Linked DNA regions of Homo sapiens: all the other regions are reported to be linked to region 3. The links are microRNA targets in miRTarBase. Many come from high-throughput screens and were not tested one by one. Region 3 holds a microRNA gene; each other region holds the end of a gene's coding sequence. Distances are between the middles of the regions.

The links. The annotated mature microRNA hsa-miR-4649-3p reads UCUGAGGCCUGCCUCUCCCCA and lies in region 3 at 1,997-2,017, opposite strand. An mRNA with a match to its seed (bases 2 to 7 or 8) in the 3' UTR can be bound and repressed. Matches are read on the target gene's strand: a 7mer-m8 pairs with bases 2 to 8, a 7mer-A1 pairs with bases 2 to 7 and ends in A, and an 8mer does both.
Region 1: the mRNA of ATP6V0D2 is a reported target of hsa-miR-4649-3p. Seed matches in the 3' UTR shown: 7mer-m8 at 1,694-1,700 and 7mer-m8 at 1,828-1,834.
Region 2: miRTarBase lists SPPL2A as a target of hsa-miR-4649-3p. Seed matches in the 3' UTR shown: 7mer-m8 at 1,735-1,741, 7mer-m8 at 686-692 and 8mer at 552-559.
Region 4: the mRNA of STEAP2 is a reported target of hsa-miR-4649-3p. Seed matches in the 3' UTR shown: 7mer-m8 at 1,701-1,707 and 8mer at 904-911.
Region 5: miRTarBase lists MRPL49 as a target of hsa-miR-4649-3p. Seed matches in the 3' UTR shown: 7mer-m8 at 565-571 and 7mer-m8 at 886-892.

Annotation. Positions count from the first base shown.
Region 1 is chr8:86,152,188-86,156,187 of GRCh38, forward strand. It overlaps ATP6V0D2 (ATPase H+ transporting V0 subunit d2), which reads left to right. Exons shown (of 8, transcript NM_152565.1): 8 at 629-2,038. The coding sequence ends at 790. Among named protein-coding and RNA genes, the nearest start is that of ATP6V0D2, 55 kb to the left of the region's middle.
Region 2 is chr15:50,704,555-50,708,554 of GRCh38, forward strand. SPPL2A (signal peptide peptidase like 2A) reads right to left here. Exons shown (of 15, transcript NM_032802.4): 15 at 1-3,320. The coding sequence ends at 3,246. Among named protein-coding and RNA genes, the nearest start is that of TRPM7, 20 kb to the left of the region's middle.
Region 3 is chr7:44,108,756-44,112,907 of GRCh38, reverse strand. MIR4649 (microRNA 4649) reads right to left here and starts at 2,059; the gene lies at 1,996-2,059. It overlaps AEBP1 (AE binding protein 1), which reads right to left. Exons shown (of 21, transcript NM_001129.5): 7 at 3,932-4,009; 8 at 3,724-3,801; 9 at 3,567-3,620; 10 at 2,784-2,893; 11 at 2,562-2,701; 12 at 2,099-2,183; 13 at 1,851-1,995; 14 at 1,669-1,754; 15 at 1,278-1,401; 16 at 858-1,054; 17 at 587-766; 18 at 1-350.
Region 4 is chr7:90,232,370-90,236,369 of GRCh38, reverse strand. STEAP2 (STEAP2 metalloreductase) reads right to left here. Exons shown (of 6, transcript NM_001244944.2): 6 at 1-4,000. The coding sequence ends at 3,746. Among named protein-coding and RNA genes, the nearest start is that of CFAP69, 11 kb to the left of the region's middle. RefSeq lists a silencer at 1,605-1,810.
Region 5 is chr11:65,125,362-65,129,361 of GRCh38, forward strand. It overlaps MRPL49 (mitochondrial ribosomal protein L49), which reads left to right. Exons shown (of 4, transcript NM_004927.4): 3 at 127-251; 4 at 365-2,010. The coding sequence ends at 511. It overlaps SYVN1 (synoviolin 1), which reads right to left. Exons shown (of 16, transcript NM_172230.3): 15 at 3,202-3,353; 16 at 1,918-3,127. The coding sequence ends at 3,021. Among named protein-coding and RNA genes, the nearest start is that of MIR6751, 2.6 kb to the right of the region's middle.

The DNA.
Region 1 (4,000 bases), not on the chromosome of region 3:
CCTGTGTTAGTTTGCTGAGAATGATGGTCTCCAGCTTTATCCATGTCCCTGCAAAGGACATGAACTCATCCTTTTTTATGGCTGCATAGTATTCCATGGTATATATGTGCCACATTTTCTTTATCCAGGCTATCACTGATGGGCATTTGGGTTGGTTCCAAGTCTTTGCTATTGGGAAAAGTGCTGCAATAAACATATGTGTGCAGGTGTCTTTATAGTAGGATGATTTATAATCTTTTAGGTATATACCCAGTAATGGGATCGCTGGGTCAAATGATATTTCTGGTTCTAGATCCTTGAAGAATTGCCACACTATCTTCCACAATGGTTGAACTAATTTACACTCCCACTAACAGTGTGAAAGCGTTCCTATTTCAATTTGGAGCTTTTCTTGTGATTCTACAAACTTACTTTAATAACTTCCGTTGTCTACATTTATCTGCAGAGTGACACTCTCTCTTTAGAACTTTCTGAGTTGTCACCATACTCCTCTATTTGGCCCAATTTAGAGATTGCCTGTTTAAACACAAATAAGCACTGCACAAGTTCAAGCCAGTCAGTAGCTTAATATTATTCCATAATGTTCCAAATAAGTTGATGATCTGTGTTACTTTTTTTCTTTCCTCAGGTACAAATGAATGTGCTGGCATTCAACAGACAGTTCCACTACGGTGTGTTTTATGCATATGTAAAGCTGAAGGAACAGGAAATTAGAAATATTGTGTGGATAGCAGAATGTATTTCACAGAGGCATCGAACTAAAATCAACAGTTACATTCCAATTTTATAACCCAAGTAAGGTTCTCAAATGTAGAAAATTATAAATGTTAAAAGGAAGTTATTGAAGAAAATAAAAGAAATTATGTTATATTATCTAGACTACACAAAAGTAAGCCACACTATATCTTCATGAGTTGCAAATCCATGGAAACACAGTAAACCAGCCCTGAAACAAAGCATTTCCTTGTTTTCAGTGGTATTAGATCTTGTTTCCACATGTCTGTCTCATTCTTCACTGGGCCTTACAGGTTAGTTTTAATTAACTCTATGGTATTTTTCTTATTCTTGTTTGATCATGTTAAAAATTGGACCTAATAAAAGTATTTTATTCTTGCTTTTCCATGCTTCTCTACAGGTCCAAATACTGAATGTCTCCTTTACTTTTTCTCTTTTAAATTTTTTTCTAGACAGGGTCTCACTCTGTCACCTAGGCTACAGTGCAGTGGTGTGATCACAGCTCACTGCAGCCTCGACTTCCCAGGCTCAAGTGATCCTCCCAGCTCTCAGCCTCCAAAGTAGCTGGCACTACAAGTGTACACCCCCACACAAGGCTAAGTTTTGTATTTTTTGTAGAGACAGGGTTTCAACATATTATCCAGGCTGGTGTCGAATTCCTGGGCTCCAGGGATCCACAGTCCCCCTTGGCCTCCCAAAGTGTTGGGATTACATGCATGAGCCACTGTGCTGGGCTTCATTTACATTTTAACTGTCTGTTCCTTGCCTAGATTCACAGAAATCCAAAGCTGTATGTAGTCAACATGGTTCACAAGTGTTGGAAAATGTGTTTTTTGTTTTGTTTTGTTTTGTTTCGTTTTGTTTTGAGACAGAGTTTCCCTCTGTCGCCCAGGCTAGAGTGCAATGGCGTGATCTCGGCTCACTGCAACCTCCACCTCCCAGATTCAAGCAACTCTCTGCCTCAGCCTCCCGAGTAGCTGGGATTACAAGCACCCACCACTACACTCAGCTAATTTTTTGTATTTTTAGTAGAGCCGGGGTTTCACCATCTTGGCCAGGCTGATCTTGAACTCCTGAGCTCATGATCCACCCGCCTCAGCCTCCCAAAGTGCTGGGATTACAGGCCCCTTGTTCAGCCACTGCACCTGGCCCCTTATTTTGTTTTTGTTTTCTAATATACTTTGATGTAATCAGCTTGAGAAAGCAACACAATTTCAAATCCTATCTTCTAGATGCAAGCAGTGTTAAATTTGTTAATAAATTTGCTTTTCACACCTTTCTTTAAATAAAAGGTATATCTCTCTTTCTTGTGGTTTCTTCCTTCTTTACATGAGAAGAAAATGACCTCCTTAATTGTAGTTTACTCATTCAAAAATCGCAGGTTCAGTTTTCAGGGTATGAATTATCTATTAAAATCTCAGTAGAAATGGTGCATAGAGCTACCAGGAAAAAAAAGACAACAAAGCACTGCTCAAGTCCTTCCTTTAAATATAAAACATATTAACATATTCCTAAATGTAAAATCTATATTTGCCATGTTTTAAAAAATAAACCCATATATATTTGAAAATTCTTCAAATCAGAATATGTACAGAGAGTATACAAATACTGATATCTAGAATTAGATGCATAGACCAAGGAGTAAATCAAATTTTCTTCAAAAATCTAGCTTTTTTAGTTAAATATTTTAATAATTTTAGTGATAGGAACTTTTTTGTTGTTGTTGAAACAGGGTCTTGCTCCATCACCCAGGCTGGAATGCAGTGGTGGGATCACAGGTTACTGGAGCCTCCACCTCCCAGGCTCAAGTGATCCTCCTGCCTCTCAGCCTCCCAAGTAGCTGGAACCAGAGGTGTGTGCCACCACAACTGCCTAATTTTTTTTTTCTTTTTTAAGGTAGAGACAGTGTCTCTACATGTTGCCCAGGCTGATCTCAAACTCAGGCAATCCTCCCACCTCGACTTCCCTAAGTGCTAGGATTACAGCCACAACGCCCGGCCAAAAGGAACTTTTAAGCATACAGTAAAATAGTAGCTCATAGAACCAGGAAGAAAGCCAAGTGCCTAGCCTCACATCTATGCAGGAGGCCCAGCCCACACCAGGGTCCTGTTAGTACTTGAAGTGCCCCCTGGAGGGCTCCAGTGCAGACCCATCAGCTGGAGCCAAAGCAGCCACTGACCAAGTGTGGCCCCTGGTCTGGAAAGCATCTTCCCTGCCTTGCTCAGGATGCTGTCCTTCACGGGGGGGTGGGGGGTTGGACCCAGAGACACCTCTATTGTACATTTTAACTTGTGGTTTCTGGTGATGGGTTTAAGGCTTAGGGCTCCCTTAAAGGTCGGGAGGAAAAGACACTGATGGGAAAGGGATAGCTTAAAGAAAGGCACCAAGGTGATTCTCAGACTATCCCCTTCCCACCCCACCTCTACATGATATGGGTAGGGCCCTTAATGTGCCACAAGGCTGCAGGCTGAAGTTAAATTCCCTTTCTCTGGATATAAACAGACGATTCCAATCCTTCCAACCCCTTCCTCAGCCACCCAAGAGTCCAACCATTATGTGAATACAGAAGAGAGGAACTTCCCTAATCCCTTGAGGCAAGTAGAAAGTGCACCTAGCATGGATAAGGATATATACATTGTGATTTGAAGAATTTGCCTTGAAGTTTCATAGCTTTTCAGTGGCTGAGCTGGGATCTGACTGCTTCATCATGCCTCAGGGAACTGGGCTGCAATGGAAAACATGAACCTTTGAAAAACATCTTACAAAATGAGGCCCAAAAGTTCAGATACTATACATGGAACACAGAAAACAGTGAGGCAAAGACTAATTTCTTGGGCAGGGTGCAGTGGCTCACACCTGTACTCCCAGCATTTTGGGAGGCCAAGGCAGGTGAATCACTTGAGGTCAGGCATTTGAGACCAGCCTGACCAACATGGTAAAACCCCGTCTCCACTAAAAACACAAAAATTAGCCAGGTGTGGTGACACAGGCCTGTAGTCCCAGCTACTCGGGAGGCTGAGGTGGGAGGATTGCTTGAGCCTGAGAGGCGGAGGTTGCAGTAAGTCAAGATTGGACCACTACAGTCCAGCCCGGGCCACACAGCAAGACTCCGTCTCAAAAAATAAAAAAAATTAATTTCTTGTTCTAAGTAACTGAAGCTGAGGCTCCTCACCATCCCTTCTCCACCCTCCTCCTGAACATTTCATCAGTCCCTCAAATTCCCTCCTCTATCTGCTGCAGTTGGTGTCAGAACATTATATTCCAA
Region 2 (4,000 bases), not on the chromosome of region 3:
AATAAATACAGTGTATCATTATTTTAAAGACATGTTTAGGGAAAAAACCAGCTTCTCTTCCCCTTAAAGTTATTGGTGGTGGGAGGGCAAGAGAGGAAGAGATGGCAGCTTTTTAAGTGAAATTTTAATCTTATCTATCTTTTGTTCATTTTGAGTCCCCAAATAAAATATTTCTGTACTTTAATTTCTTAATCACTATTGTCAGCTTGGTTGCTACACATTTAATTACAATATAAAGTTGACATTGAGGATGAAGAAACTTAATTATACTTTTTCTTATTTCTATTTAACCAATAAGATTTTAATAGCAAATTAGAACAAGATTTTACCTCCTTAATAACTAATGGTTAGATAAAGTAGAATTTGTATCAAGTAACTCGGATTTCAGATTTCTGGATGTACCAGTTACTATGCTACTGAGGAGATACATCTAGTTGATGAAGTTAAAATATTAATTACTACTCCAGTTATATGAAACCAAATTATTTTGAGAAATTATCTTATTTTGCCAGGCGCGGTGGCTCATGCCTGCAATCCCAGCACTTGGGGAGTCTGAGGCGGGCAGATCATGAGGTCAGGAGCTCAAGACCAGCCTGACCAACAAGGTGAAACCCCGTCTCTACTAAAAATACAAAAATTAGCCAGGTGTGGTGGCACGCACCTGTAATCCCGTCTACTTGGGAGGCTGAGGCAGGAAAATTGCTTGAACCAGGAGGCAGAGGTTGTAGTGAGCCAAGATCTTGCTACTGCACTCCAGCCTGGGTGACAGAGGGAGACTCCATTTCCAAAAAAAAAAAAAAGAAATTAATTATCTCATTTCGATGTAGTAAAAAAAAAATTTTCTTTAACATTCTTCATAAAATGTGATTAAGGCTATTAAATATAAAGCTTGGATGAGGGTGCAGATAATTTTACAAAACAGCTGTATTTTGGCAAATATTTTATTATTATAAATGAAAATACAGAGTTTTAAAACGGCACTTAATCTGTTCTCTCTCTCAGAGTCTGCCAAATAAATCAGATTTCTTGGAAAATATTCAAACTTGATACAATGGAGGCAAAATTAACTCTTGTCAGGTAAGTCATTTGCCATAAACGAAAGGACCCATAACTGCATTAAGCAGAGAGGGACTGACTGTCAATGAAGCTTCTCTATTTGCAATTTATTCAGCAAAAGCGAACAATTTTTAAAAAGTCTCTAATGCAAAATTTAGTTCAAGTATCAAAGGTCTGATCAATTTTAAAAGGCATTAGTTTTATTTTTAATAAATTGAACTGGCCTTAGATGAAAGATATAGTTCTGTTCACATATTTTATACATTATTTACAGAGAAATGAAAAATCCTGCTGCCTTTGTTATCACTTGTCATTTGCGAAATTCTTACTAAAATAAAAGAAAATGGAAAGATAATTTGACCTCTGACTTCCAGGAGAATGTTCAGGCCACATCTAAAATTTACCAAAGAATGGGGAAAAAACTTTTTTCAAGTTGGAAGGTACCAGAGTGATTAGCTGGTCTAACCTACTCATTTTACAGATTAGAAAACTGAGATATGGCCGGGCGCGGTGGCTCACGCCTGTAATCCCAGCACTTTGGGAGGCCGAGGCGGGCGGATCACGAGGTCAGGAGATCGAGACCATCCCGGCTAAAACGGTGAAACCCCGTCTCTACTAAAACTACAAAAAATAGCCGGGCGTAGTGGCGGGCGCCTGTAGTCCTAGCTACTTGGGAGGCTGAGGCAGGAGAATGGCGTGAACCCGGGAGGCGGAGCTTGCAGTGAGCCGAGATCCCGCCACTGCACTCCAGCCTGGGCGACAGAGCGAGACTCCGTCTCAAAAAAAAAAAAAAAAAAAAAAAGAAAACTGAGATACAAGGTCTTGAGATGCGGCAAATTACTCAACTCTTCCTTGTATTGTAATTAAACTGAGACTAACACCAAGTCTCTTGCTGTTGTTGCCAATTCTTTTCTCTGAACCGCACTTTGTACATCCTCCACCAAGATTAAGAATCATTACCTATGGGAAAAGGGGTGGGCATCAGGAAGAAAAAAAGATAACGGGTGGGAGTGGGGGAATGTGGGATAATGTTAGGAATGCTGTATTCAACGATGAGCCATATGTATTAATACATAATTTCTTAAGAAAAATAATTTTTTTAAAAAATCAAACCTTAACATTAACAGAACCAAATTGCAAAGATCAGAAATACCAAAGTGAAACTGAATGTTAGTACTGAAATTTAAGCTACATTTAAAAAAAAAAGGCTGTCAAACCAATGAAAACTAGATTTCAGTGTCTGTCTCCTTTTAGTGACTAGTTCTATATATTATGTTTCTCTATATCTGGAAAAATGTTCTTAATATAATACACGTGCAGTCTGAAGTAATTTCAGTTCTCAAGTTTATGAAAGGATTGGGTTTAAAAAAATACTACAAAAATATGCACTTATATTTCCAAAATTATGTATTTCTAACCTCTGCAGTGATATAAGGTCCAAATTTTCACCGTTGAACCGCCTTCTTGCATGGTGTTAAACAGTTATTTCTACAGAGCAGATATAATTTGCATAAATCTTTTTTTTTGGGATGGAGTCTCACTCTGTCGCCCAGGCTGGAGTGCAGTGGCGTGATCTTGGCTCACTGCAAGCTCCACTTCCCGGGTTCACGCCATTCTCCTGTCTCAGCCTTCCCAGTAGCTGGGACTACAGGCACCCTCCACCACGCCCAGCTAATTTTTGGTATTTTTAGTAGAGAGGGGTTTCACCGTGTTAGCCAGGATGGTCTCGATCTCCTGACCTCGTGATCCGCCCGCCTTGGCCTCCCAAAGTGTTGGGATTACAGGCGTGAGCCACCGCGCCTGGCCAATTTGCATAATTCTTTACAGTAAAACCCATTCAGAAATAGTAACTACTTGTATCTACCATCAGAGCTGAAAGAAACAGATTTCGTTAAAAAAAAGTATAGGGGTGGGTCAAGGCATTTTTTTTTAGAAAAATATACTGTATATAGTACATCTCGGAAACTACACAGACCATATGTTTTATTTAATGTGAAGGCACAACTTTAACATTAAAAGCAAAGCGTTTTAGTTATTTATGATGTAACTGTCAGTACCAGCTCATAAAAATATATTTTTGCAAGCATATCATTGAAGACTCTTTCAGATTGTCAATTCAAAAGTCAATTTAAAAAGTCGAAGTCTATTTGTAGAAAATCAATGACACATTATAGCAGTTCCACATAATATTATTGCTGGACAATCTGTTCACCAGATATCACAGGGTTTTCTTCATTTGTTGCACAATCCAAATGGTCCATCATCTAGGCATAAATAAAAGACGTTAGGAAATGCAAAATTTCAACTTGCCCCCAATATTCACTACATTAGCAAAAGGATTCTTTTTCTAAAAAACACAGATTGCTCTATGAAACTGAGCACTCCTTCTGGAGCACTGTTCTGGTTCAACATCCACACTTCTAAGGAGATAGTCAGGGTGACACTGAACCTCTCAGGAAGCCTAATCACATGACTCAAAGCCAATTTGTGTTCTCTGGATCTTCCGTTATCTCCATTTCCCAATATGAATACTGCCCTTCATGGCAGTGAGAACTCCAGAACAAAAGGAAGATATTCCTGACACTTATTCCAGGACACTATTCCAGGCAGTGTCCAATCATACAAATGGGAAAACTAAAAATGGCCTCATGAGTCACTGTGAGAATACCTGCTGACTCTGGGACAGTGTGATATTATTGACACCTTGAAATAACCGTAAGATAATTTAAACTTTGGAAACATTATAATAATTTCTACAAAAAATGAACTTGAGGTCATATGATATCTGAAAACAAAACCAAGAATACATTTGCTAGGCCGGGCGCAGTGGCTCACACCTGTAATCCCAGCACCTTGGGAGGCTGAGATGGGCAGATCATGAGGTCAGGAGTTCGAGACCAGCCTGGCCAAGATGGTGAAACCCCGTCTCTAATAAAAATACAAA
Region 3 (4,152 bases):
CCGGTCCGGGGGTTCCACTTGGCCCCGTTGACGATGCCCATGCCGCCGGTGTAGTCCTGGGCTTGGCAGCCTCCGCGGTAGGGCTCGGTCAAGGTGAGGTGTGCGGAGGCGAAGGAGATGGCAAGCCACCGGAAGATGGCGTGGTCTGGAGTCTCCTGGGCCTCGGAGACCTCGTCCTCATCCTCCCCCCGGGCTGCTGCCATGGCTGCGGCCAGCAGCTGCTCCTGGGTAGGCGTGCGGGCCATATCGTAGGGGTAGGATACTAGCCGCTCGCCGCCGTTCAGATTTGCTCCCAGCACGAAGGGGTTCTTCTCCATCCAGGCAATGATGGCCCGGACCTCCGTGGATACCTGGAGTGGCCAGCACGTGTGAGGCCAGGGCTGCAGCTCCGGCCACTATCCCCAACCTAGCCCGATCACCCTCCATGAAGCTTCACACCAGTACTCGCACGATCCCCTGTCCCCCAACCCCCAGAGCCTCAGCGTCTGGAGTTCAGGCACCGTCAGCCCCACCCCCAAGCCCAGAACACCAGGACCCCAGGGTCCAGCTGCTCCCTCCTGCCCTTTCAGCCAGGCTGTAGCCTCACCGTGGCATCTGGCGAAAGGTAGCGTTCAGGGATGGGCAAGTTATTGTTGGGGACCCGGTAGGGGACCCATTTCCTCTCCTCAGCTCCCCAGAGCACAGAGTTGAGATCCGGGAAATCTTCAAAGATGTCAAAGCCCTCCTCAGTCCACAGTCCCAGCGCCCAGTTCCCAAACTCTGAGCCCTGTGGGGAGCCAGCAGGGTAGGCATCGGCTACCCACACCCCCACAACCCCCAGCTGCCTGGACCCTGGCCAGCCTCACCCTTCAACCCACCATCTGCGCTGCCACCTCGTAGCCATCAGGGTTCAGTGAGGGCACCAGGTGGATGCGTGTGTCCTGCACCAGGCTGCGCACACGTGGGTTCCCATCGCGGTACTCTCGGCACAGGTACTGCATGAGCAGCAGCAACAGCTCTCGGCCCAGCACCTCGTTGCCATGGATCCCAGCAGTGTAGCGGAACTCGGGCTCCCCTGCAAGGGCGGGAGCCTCAGTGAGCACTCAGTCTCCCGAGGCCCAGGGCAGCTGAGGAAGGACCCAGACCCACCTCATACCCGAGGGTCTGGGGGACAGCTGGGGCTCCTAGGGCCCTGTAAGACAAGCCAGAATCCCCAGAGAGGCTCCGGAACAGGCGGGAGGCAGTGAGCTCTGCACATCAGCAGCAGAGGCCAGCTGCTGGCCCCCACAGACCCTCACCCAGTTCATGCTCCCCAGGGTTGTCTGAGATCTCCATGGCATAGATCTTGAGGCCTCGTGAGCTCTTGCCCAGGCTGTAAGTGCGGGTGATGGTGGGGCACTCCTCGTTCACCACCTTCATGAGCTGGGGCAGAGGGGGAGGACGTGGAATCAATCATGCAATCCGTCCCCCGCTGACCATGCCCCTTCCACTTCCAGGGCCTGCTCTATGGCGAGGGACGGGCATGACCCCTTCACGCAGCCCCCAGGTACTGGCCTCCTTCCTAAGGTGAGGGACAGCCAGCATCCCTGGAACCAGTAGGGACTGGGCCCAGTGACAGAAGCACCAGGCACACACTCCCGTCAGCCACAGACAGGTCCCACCCCCAGCCCCAGGATATATGCTCCCAACCTGGCGCATGTCCTTGTAGCTGTGGTGCCGGAAATCCAGGTCATCGGTGGCCACCACCTCATTCTGTGCGTAGTAGCTGTAGACAGCTGCAAGGGAGGCGGGGTTGTCTTTAGCTGGGTGCCGGCTGGCCCACCCTAGCACCCCACCTCCACTCAGAGCCCCTGCCAGCCCTCCACACTCACGGGCCACAGAGCACCCCAGCACCTCCAGGCGCATGCACAGGCTGCCATTCCAGGTGAGTGGGTAGATGCGGATGAAACGAGCCACCACCGGCTCTGGGAGCTCACTCAGCACGGGTGTGTCCTTGTCCACGTTCCCATGAAAGGTCTGGGGAGAGGCAGGCCTCAGAGCAGTACTGCCAGCCCCTCTGAGAGCCCACCCCTCGCCCAGACAATGGGAGCAGAGCCAAGAGCCTGGGCATGGTGCCCACCATTTCCTCATAGCCGTTGGTGTACATCACCCATGTCTGGCTGTCATTGCTGAAGCCCACGAAGAAGGTGGTCACAAAATCGTCACTGTGGAGTGGACAGTGGTCAGAGCAAGGGTCTTCCCCCTCCCAGGCCCTCAGGTGGCCTGAGCCTCCCTCTTCCGAGCCCCAAGAATTTAAGAGCTAGCAGGGTGGTGCTGCACGGCCCAGGTGTTGAGCCTGGGTCCTATGCCCGTCACATAGCCATGGGCAGGTGATCTGTCCCTAAACTCATGTGCTATCAGGACACAGGGGCTGACTGACCAGGCTGAGGAGTGGGGATGGGCAGGGTGAGTCCCTCACTGATCTTTTTGGCCTTCTTTGGCTGGGCCAAAGAAGGGCCCACTGGAATCTCCTTAATGGGACACAGAGCCATGCCTATGTAGCCACTCCCCTCTGCCAACTATCCATGAGCCTGGCCACGCACTGGATGCTGGAGTCTCTGCCCTGGGTGATGACGCCTGTGAACCGGGTAGTCCTCCTGGTGTCCACCTCTATCCACTGGGTCCTGGCATCGTCCTCGGCACACCACGCACCATCATAGTAGTCGTCCTCAGTGGCACCGGTCTGTCCAGGGGGCAGGGGAGGCTGAGCATGGGCGGAGGAGTCCCTTATCCCAGTTGGGAGATGGGCCCATCCCAATGCCCACCTGCATGTTGAGCCGGCCGCGCTGTGCCCCCAGGCCGTGGCGCAGCATGGAGGAGGCTCGGATCTGGTTGTCCTCAATACGGTGTGACTCCATCCCAATGGGGGGACACTCTGAGGACGCGTACCCCAGAATGGTGGCTCACTAGCTCCATCCTTCCCTCCACCAAACCCAGAACCAAGGAGCCCAGAGCCCACTCCCGGCACATCGGGGGCACAGTCAGAGGGCAGCTCTGGTCAGCTGGTGGCTCCCTGGTGCCCTGCACCAGCCCACCTGGAATCGACTCAAAGCCAGGCCAGGAGCTGTTTCCAATCCCAGCCTGTGCTTCCCCTCCCTGGGCCTCAGCTGCCCCATCTGGAGAACGGGCTGACCATGCCCAGCTCTCAGGGGACACACGTGAAATCACAGGTAGAGCTCCCCCAGGGCGCAGCCACAGATGTCATCCAGATGGGGACCGTCTGCACAATGGCCCTGCAGGGATACCTGTGAAGGTACCTGAGGTCCTCACTCCCCACCAAGGCCCCAGGTCCTCCCCCTACCACGCCCAGCCACTAGGGGCCCTGGGGAGCTGCCACCCTCCTGAAGCAGGCCAGCCTGGGGTCCAGGGCTGGGGCAGCCAAGCGAGGCTATCCTGGGCTCCCGGGGCCCCTCCCTTCTGGGTCCCAAGAATCTGAGTAGGAAAGGGTTCCGGGGACCTGGGTCCTGTTTGTGACATTGGGCCAGTCACTTGTCCCAGCACCCCCATCCTGTGGCCCCCACCCTCACCCCCTTGTGCCCCCCACTTACTGACTTTCTCCGTAGGCGTCCACTCCTCCTCCAACTCCTCGCCCTTTCGGGGCTCTAGGGACAATGAAGGGAGGACATGGCACCAAGGGCCCGGGAGGCAATCAGGAGTCCAGATGCTGCCCCACAGGGACCCAGGCCCCAAGCCCCAGCCACACACCTTTGTGGTCCTTGCCCTTCTCCACTGCCCACTTGTCGGTCTCCTCCTTGGGGCTGCTGTCCTCCTTTTTGGGTTTCTCTGGAAGGTGCAAGGTAGGAGGGGCCAGTCAGCCTGGCTCTGGGCTTTGAGGACCATGTGGGGTGGATCAGGCAGGCCCCAGGTGGCCTTCAGGGCAGGCCTGGTGTGGGAAGTCCTTGGTCCCACTCACTCAGCTCCTCCTTCTCTTCGTCTGTCTGGCGCTCAGCATCGGGCTTCTGGGGCGGAGGAGGCCCAAAGTAATAGTCCACTATGGGGAGGGAGAGCCAGCTGAGGCTGCCCTGACCCTGCTGCGGGGCCTCAGCTCCTGGGTCCACAGGAGCTCAGCAGGACAGGACCGCGCCAGAGGGGAGGAGGACGGGAGATGGGGGACAGCTGAGTTGGGAGAGGGTC
Region 4 (4,000 bases), 46 Mb from region 3:
CAACACATTTTAGGCTGTTTACGTATTTCAAAACAGGGATTTCATAGACTGACACAGGAATAATTAGTTCAGTGTTCACAGTATTCCTAAATAAATATTTACTTATTACATTTATGATACTTTATTTAAAATACCACATTAGAAACTTTAAATATTTCATAAATAAATCTCTTTTTTGGGGGGAAACTGTACAGAATTTATTATGAAATAGCTTAATGGCAAGTGGTAATTTAGAAGAATTAAGTTATCAGATAGGAGATATATTAAAATATTTAAAAATTGGATATATTCTTGAAGCCCTTTTACACAAGTAATTTCTATAATTTGATTGTAATGAAAGTATAATATACCTTGTTACTATTATCAGATTAATTTTTGAAAGTAGAATTCCTTAATCAAGCCAAGGTTATGCTGCTTTATAAGAAATTAATCAGGTAGTTTAACACTAGAGCTCATTAGCCAACCTGTATGTAGCACAAAATAATCATCTCTGATAAATACCTATAAATATATTTTATTCATACTTTTAAATATTTTACAATTCAAATAAAAACCTTATATGTAGACAATCTGGGCTAAATTTCCATGTATGTTTTGAAAAATAATGTTAGCATGAATAGATTCATATTTAAATATGATTTTAAATACTCTTAATAGAGGAGACATAAGAAATATTTACATAAAAGCTAAGTAGCATGATACAGCTCATGGTTATTTTCCTCATAGGAAAACAATTACTTGATTTTTTTTTTTGCATAGGATTAAGACTGAGTATCTTTTCTACATTCTTTTAACTTTCTAAGGGGCACTTCTCAAAACACAGACCAGGTAGCAAATCTCCACTGCTCTAAGGTTCTCACCACCACTTTCTCACACCTAGCAATAGTAGAATTCAGTCCTACTTCTGAGGCCAGAAGAATGGTTCAGAAAAATAATGATTATAAAAAATAACAATTAAGAAAAATAATCACATAGAGGTAAAATAAAGCAACTAAACATCATAGTTTTGCATTTTTAGAAAAGCATTTAAACATTTAGAATTATAGTAAATATATTACATTTATTCTAAAACTTCAAAATTATTCTGTTTTTGTAGTACTGAAAAGAAGATAGTGCCATTTGAAACAACAGATGCATCTTTTATACATTTTCACAAGTTTGTTTTTCATATTTTTAAAGGCCCCATTTATCTGTAACAGTGGTATTTTTATTTAGAGTATCGGCTACTTAATATATACATGCAACAATATATGCTTTAATAGTCATTTAACTTTTAGGAATATTTCATCACATTAAGTGGTTAAGCATAGTGTTAAAAGAGTGGAATTTAAGGAATAAGAAAATATTGAAAATACGCTGTTATTTTCATTAGTTCACTATAATAGAATGTTTTTGCCCATAAAAGTTATCATTGCCCAACTGAATTCCTACCAAGAACTAACAAGTGATTCTCAAGTGGGGAGAAATATTATTAAAATAAAGAAAATAGAGGGCTCAGTTAGAAAGTACAAGATAATAGGCCGGGCGCGGTAGCTCACACCTGTAATCCCAGCACTTTGGAGGCCAAGGCGGGCGGATCACGAGGTCAGGAGATCGAGACCATCCTGGCTAACACGGTGAAACTCCGTCTCTACTAAAAATACAAAAAGAAATCAGCCGGGCATGGTGGCGGGCACCTGTAGTCCCAGCTACTCGGGAGGCTGAGGCAGGAGAATGGCGTGAACCCGGGAGGCAGAGCTTGCAGTGAGCCGAGATCGTGCCACTGCACTCCAGCCTGGGTGACAGAGCAAGACTCTGTCTTTAAAAAAAAAAAAAAAAAAAAAGAGGGTACAAGATAATAAAATTCACCAAGAGAACATTAGAAAATCATAAGTGAATTACCAAACTGACAAGGCAGTTGTAGAAAAAGAGTCACTGGTGGGAAAGGTAGCCTCTACTAAATAAAAGTCTTTTTATTGTTGGCAGTTGGATTCAGTAGTACCTACGTGGGTAAGTTTAGAAATGTTATAATTTCAGGAAGAGGAACGCATATAATTGTATCTTGCCTATAATTTTCTATTTTAATAAGGAAATAGCAAATTGGGGTGGGGGGAATGTAGGGCATTCTACAGTTTGAGCAAAATGCAATTAAATGTGGAAGGACAGCACTGAAAAATTTTATGAATAATCTGTATGATTATATGTCTCTAGAGTAGATTTATAATTAGCCACTTACCCTAATATCCTTCATGCTTGTAAAGTACTCCCTAATGAATGGTTATGCAGGCAGGAGAACTTCTCAGGAAGAGAAAAGGAGAAGACTAACTCTACAGAGATTTTTGAAAGACTCCGTGGGATCTCAGCAATTTGTTAACACTGCTAGGGCCCTTCACTGCATAGGGAGGCATATGGACTGCCATGGGTCTCCAGGCTCATGTTCCAAGCAAGAATAGGGTAAGTAACTGTGAATTACCCTACAAGCAGTAATAAGTTTATTATAATAATATTTTTATACATTTTTGGATGCACCCAACCCACTCTAAAGAATGTCAGTGACTTTATACAAAAGAGGAAGCATCTAGATTGGCATTGTGAACATAATGCATAGGGGCGCGGCGGGAGCTCTAGAGCCTAGTGGTTAAAACCGTGGCCTCTGGAATATGACTACCTGGACTTGAATGCTCACTCTGCCATTTATTAACTGCAAGACCTTTGAAAAATAACTTTTCTATCCTTCGGTCCCTCATGTGTAAAATGAGGATAATAACTACTTATCTCACGGGGTTGTTCTAAGTATTAAATGGGATAATACAAGTAAAGTACTTAGAACCATGCCTAGCACATCAGAATCCCTCAAAGAACATCAGTATAATCCTATACCATAGCAAGTGGTGACTGGTTAAGGTGCGACAAAGGTCAGCTGGCAGATTACTTGTGTGCAAACTTGATACTTTTGTTCTAAGTAGGAACTAGTATACAGTTCCTAGGATTGGTACCGTATTAGAGATAGCAGTTTTGGAAGCCAAATGTTACTGAATCCTCTTCCTGATCAGTATATTAATATGAAAATGAAACTGCTCTGTAACACAATAAAGAATAAAATCTTTCATGAGGTATGTATTATCAGTATGTATTTCATGTCTCAAATATATTTTAAATATAATTTCAGGTTTAATTTGTCTTTTTAATTTGTGTCTCTTCATATAATCACATTGCTTCATACAATTAATTTCATCCTTCAAATCCTATTTTATGAGAGAAATATAGGAATGCTATCATGCAGCCTTACCTAGATGCTAACATAACGTGTCCTTTCTTAAAAAAATGTATAATAATGCATTTCTACTTTTTAAGTTGAATAATTAAAATCTTAATCTTCAGAAAAAAATGTATATCCATTGAATTATTTTAAAAGCTTAAAATTCTGCTGGTTTGCAAATTGTTTTTAACATTATATCTATATTATTAACTGTAAGTATTTTTGCCTGATTATGAAATATAAAGTAACAACAGGGTTACAGTTGTGCAAAACAAAACAAAACATACCTAAATTACAATAATATGTTGACTAGAAAAATTCATATTGGCAAACATGACATTTGTGAAAATTAACTTGAAGAAAACTCTATCACTAAGTCAGTTGAAATCTCATTTAACAAGTTTCAACCCACGATAATTTGACAGCATACTTGTAACTGAACGTAGAAGTCATAAAAATAATGGCATGAGTAGAACTTTATATGGCAGCTGTGAACACCATTTGTCATCACATTACTGTGACCCTCTCCGGGGAGACATGAGGAATTGTTCCTCCCATACCTTCTTCCAGAAATTGGCTCTTTTCCCAGCCTTTTTTAATTCGTTTTAGCTTTCGGCTTATACATGGAAGGAATAAAATAATCTTACCCAGAATTACAATTGAGGGCAAAACAAGAGCAAGAACAAAGTTTGGTGGTGTATAAAATCTGTAGTACTCTTCCTCAAAAGCTCGTTTCCATCCATAAATTAAAACATGGAAAGT
Region 5 (4,000 bases), not on the chromosome of region 3:
TAAAGTCTGGAGGTGGCTTGGTCCAGCTGGGTGCACTGGCCCTCTGCAGACTGAGAGCAAGGGCCTTGGCTGAGGTGGGATGGCACGTAGGAAGAGTTGATTTAACAGTGTCTTTCCCTGTTGCAGACCCCCCACCCAACCTGCCTTACTTTGTACGACGCTCTCGGATGCACAACATCCCCGTCTACAAGGACATCACGCATGGCAACCGGCAGATGACTGTGATCCGGAAAGTGGAAGGGGACATCTGGGTAAGTGGGTGGGTGGGTCTGGGACTGGGCCTGACCCTTTCAGGGCTGAAGGGACAGGAGTCTTTTTAAGGGAAGGGACTCTTGGCCTGACCTGATTTGTCATCTTTCCCCAGGCCCTGCAGAAAGACGTGGAAGATTTTCTGAGCCCGCTGCTGGGGAAGACACCTGTCACCCAGGTCAATGAGGTGACAGGTACCCTACGGATCAAGGGCTACTTTGACCAGGAGCTTAAAGCCTGGCTCTTGGAGAAAGGCTTCTGAGGCCCAGCCGAGCAGCCTGCTTGTCAGCATGCCCTGTGGATCAAGTCTAGGGGGCCTCAGGAGGAGGGAGGTGGGTGTTGGAGCCCCTGAGACAGGGGATACAGAAACTAGGGCTAAAGGACTTTGGGGTCAGGCCTTGCTTGCATAAAGGAGAAAACAACTCTATGTACATGCTGGGGGAGAGTGCCTAATGTGGGAGACCAAATAGGGATCACCAGGCTAATGGGGGGCGTCAGCAGCTTTCTCTCCCTCCTATCTTGGCCTGTTCTTTTTTGTTTTTTGAGACGGAGTCTCACTCTGTTGCCCAGGGTGGAGTGCAGTGGCATGATCTTGGCTCACTGCAACTTCCACCTCTGGGATCAAGGGATTCTCCTGCCTCAGCCTCTTGAGTAGCTGGGATTACAGGCGCCCACCACCACAGCCTGCTAATTTTTGTATTTTTAGTAGAGATGGGGTTTCACCATGTTGGCCAGGCTGGTCTCAAACTCCTGACTCGAAGTGATCCGCCCACCTTGGCCTCCCAAAGCGTTGGGATTATAGGCATGAGCCATGTGCCTGGTCCACCTTGGCCTGTTTTGTTTTTCTTTCCTTGGGCTCAGCAATTCAAATTCTAGTTGTTATTTGGTGGAAGCAGTAGCCCAACCCCAGTTTAGGGGAAGGTAGCACAGGGCAGAGCCACTGGGCACTTTGTTTCCTTGGCCCTCCGAAGCTCACTGTTGCAAATACCCCCAAGCCTTTGCTCTAGGCCAGATCTTGTTTGGTGCAGGTGATGGAGAACACAGATGACTCGGGCATGGGTCTTGGAGATCTTCTGTTCAAAGTACAGTGCTGGCACTGGGGCACAGAGTGCCCACGTTAGCCCCGGGCTCTGATAGAGAGGTAGGAGGCACGTTCTTGGTCACTGTTCCATTGCAGACCAGACTTGCTGGCCTGACCACAAGGGAGTGGCTGGGAACTCACAGCCAGCATAGGGACATCCCCCTGCAGCCTTCTGACCTGCAATCAAGGCTGGGGAGGGGTTTGCAGGCAGGAATATGCTGACCTTTCACCCTGCCATCCCATCCCAACCCCAGCTCACTAGCCTTCATATATGCCTTATACTTGGAGTCACAGGGGCCAAAGGCCTGAGACCCCACCCTGCCCCCAAACTGGCTAAGACAGCTTTCAGTTCCTGACTCCCCAACTTGGTCTCTGCCCTGAAGCAGGGCACTGAACTCTGGGCTGCTTCTCTGTGTGTAAAATGGGCACATCTTCCTAATCTGTTAATGGTCAGTGGTGTCCCCAAGGATAGTGCTGGCTTCCATGGAAACCCTCACTCCTGGAGATTCCATTCCATTTTCAAGTGTACAGCCACAGCAAGGAGCCCGACACTGATTTGATCGATTCTGTGACACAAACCCCACCAATTGTTAATGCAAGTTTTTATTTGGCTGTATATACAATTTAAGCTATTAAAATTTGTACAATATTTACAAATTAAATAATCATCTGAAACTGTCTCCAACAACTCTTGTAACACAAAACCAAGGGGAAAAGACAGGGGCAGGCAGGTCCCAGCTCCTGTGGTCCCTCCTTGGCACAGAGCCTTTTCTAAACTGGAAAGACCAGGAGTCTGGCACTCCTGTTCCTCTTTCCCGGGATTAAGCATTCAACTTCAAAAGACAAAATTTAAGCCAAAAGACACTAGTAAGGAAGTAATTCCAATTCTAAACTTCAGAAGTTCTGCCAGTTGAGAAGTGGCCTTCCTTGGGCGCTGGGATTGCAGTGGTCAGGAGCAGGCGCACTGGCCCTTGCCTGGAGTGCGGCTGGGCAGTGGCTGCTGGGTGAGACAGGTCAGTCTCACTTGAGAAGCTGCAGAGGAAAGGGGCCTGGGGGGAGGGGCGGGGCAGGGTCCCTCAGTGCTGCCCGCCTGCACCCCCACTCCCAGGCATTCCTTTCCCTGAGTTGTGTGGTTGCCAGTAAGACGCAGAAATGCCACAGGGCATAGGGGGCACAGCCACCACCACAAGAGGCTTCTGGGGAGATCAGGGTAAGAAAAGGAAATGGGTACCAGTCTTAGGGGTGGGCCAGCGAGCAAGTTCATAGCTTGCCTCCAGCCCCTCTGGAGTCCACACTTGGGAACGGGAGCTAATACTGTTCGGCACTGCAGTGTGACTCCGCACATACAAGTAGGGCTTGGAGGGGCAGCCCCTTCTCCTGGAAAGGGGTGGGGGAAGAAGAGGGCTTCTCAGAGGCTAAACCTTCTGCCTTCATGGCCCCAGCAGAACACAGGGCTGAAGAGTTGGAGAGGAAGGCTGGAACTGACCCGAGATCCCCATGGCTGCCTGGGACTGGAGTCAAATGGGAACCCCAGCCTCTTTCCACTTGGCCTAGGGGATGCCGCCTCTTTCTCAGAGCTGGGGGTACTACTCCCTGGTGCAGACAGAGAGGGAGCTGGCACTTGGTGGCAGGACATGTTCCAGCGAGGGCTGCTCAAAAGAGCAGAGGCTGGGGCTGGGCTGGGGCAGTGTCAGTGGGCAACAGGAGACTCCAGCTTCTGCAGGCGGCGCCGGCGGAGCTCTGCTGCATCGGGCTCTCCATCCTCAGGCATCTCCTCTGTGCCCACTGACTCAGGAGCTGGGGACAGAGAGACTGGAAGTGGAACCTAGAGAAGTTCCCTGCTCCCCCGGCTGGAGGCCAATCACACCTACCTGGAGGCCTTTCCATTTCAGGGGCTGGTGGGGAGGCTCCTGGGGTTGGGGTCGTGGCCTCTGAGCTAGGGATGCTGGTGGAGGAGGCAGCAGCAACAACTGTAGTGGCAGTCTCCTCAGTGGAGTTGACTGAAGTGGCAGGCCGGGGGGGCCTGGGAAGAGAAGGGACGAGAGGCGGGCCTGGCCTTGGCATCCAAGGTTGGGCAGATTCTCCTGCCCTTGGTGAGCCTTGCAGAACAGAGTATAGAATGATGTGCCCTTGTGGCCCCAGTGCCTGGCAAACACAAGTGAACATGCTGAATGAACTCAGACAGGGTGACTGGACTCAAGGGCCAAATGATTCTATCCCTTAGCTGTAAGGTGCTTGCAGGCAGGGACTGTTGACCTGTTCACTCTTACCCTGCAGTCTCCACCCTGGGGAGTCAGGCACCTTATAGGGGACTCACTCAATAAGCCACAGTGCTCGAGCCTTGGACTCAAGTTCCTCTCCAAGCCTGTGCTGTCACTGCTAGATGCCAGGCATTATGTACATGTCACTTTTTTAAAAGACAGCGTCTCGGCTCTGTCACCAAAGCTGGAATTTAGTGGCACAATCATAGCTCACTGCACCCTCAAATTCCTAGGCTCAAACAATCCTCCTGCCTCAGCCTTCCAAAGTGCTGATTATAGGTGTGTATCTGGCAGTACACATCACTTATGAATATGAATTAAGACCCCTTTATTCAAATAATGAGAGGTCAAAAATGAGTGATGGGACCAGCGCTTGAACTTGAGCCAGGATGGCTCCAAGTGACTTCCT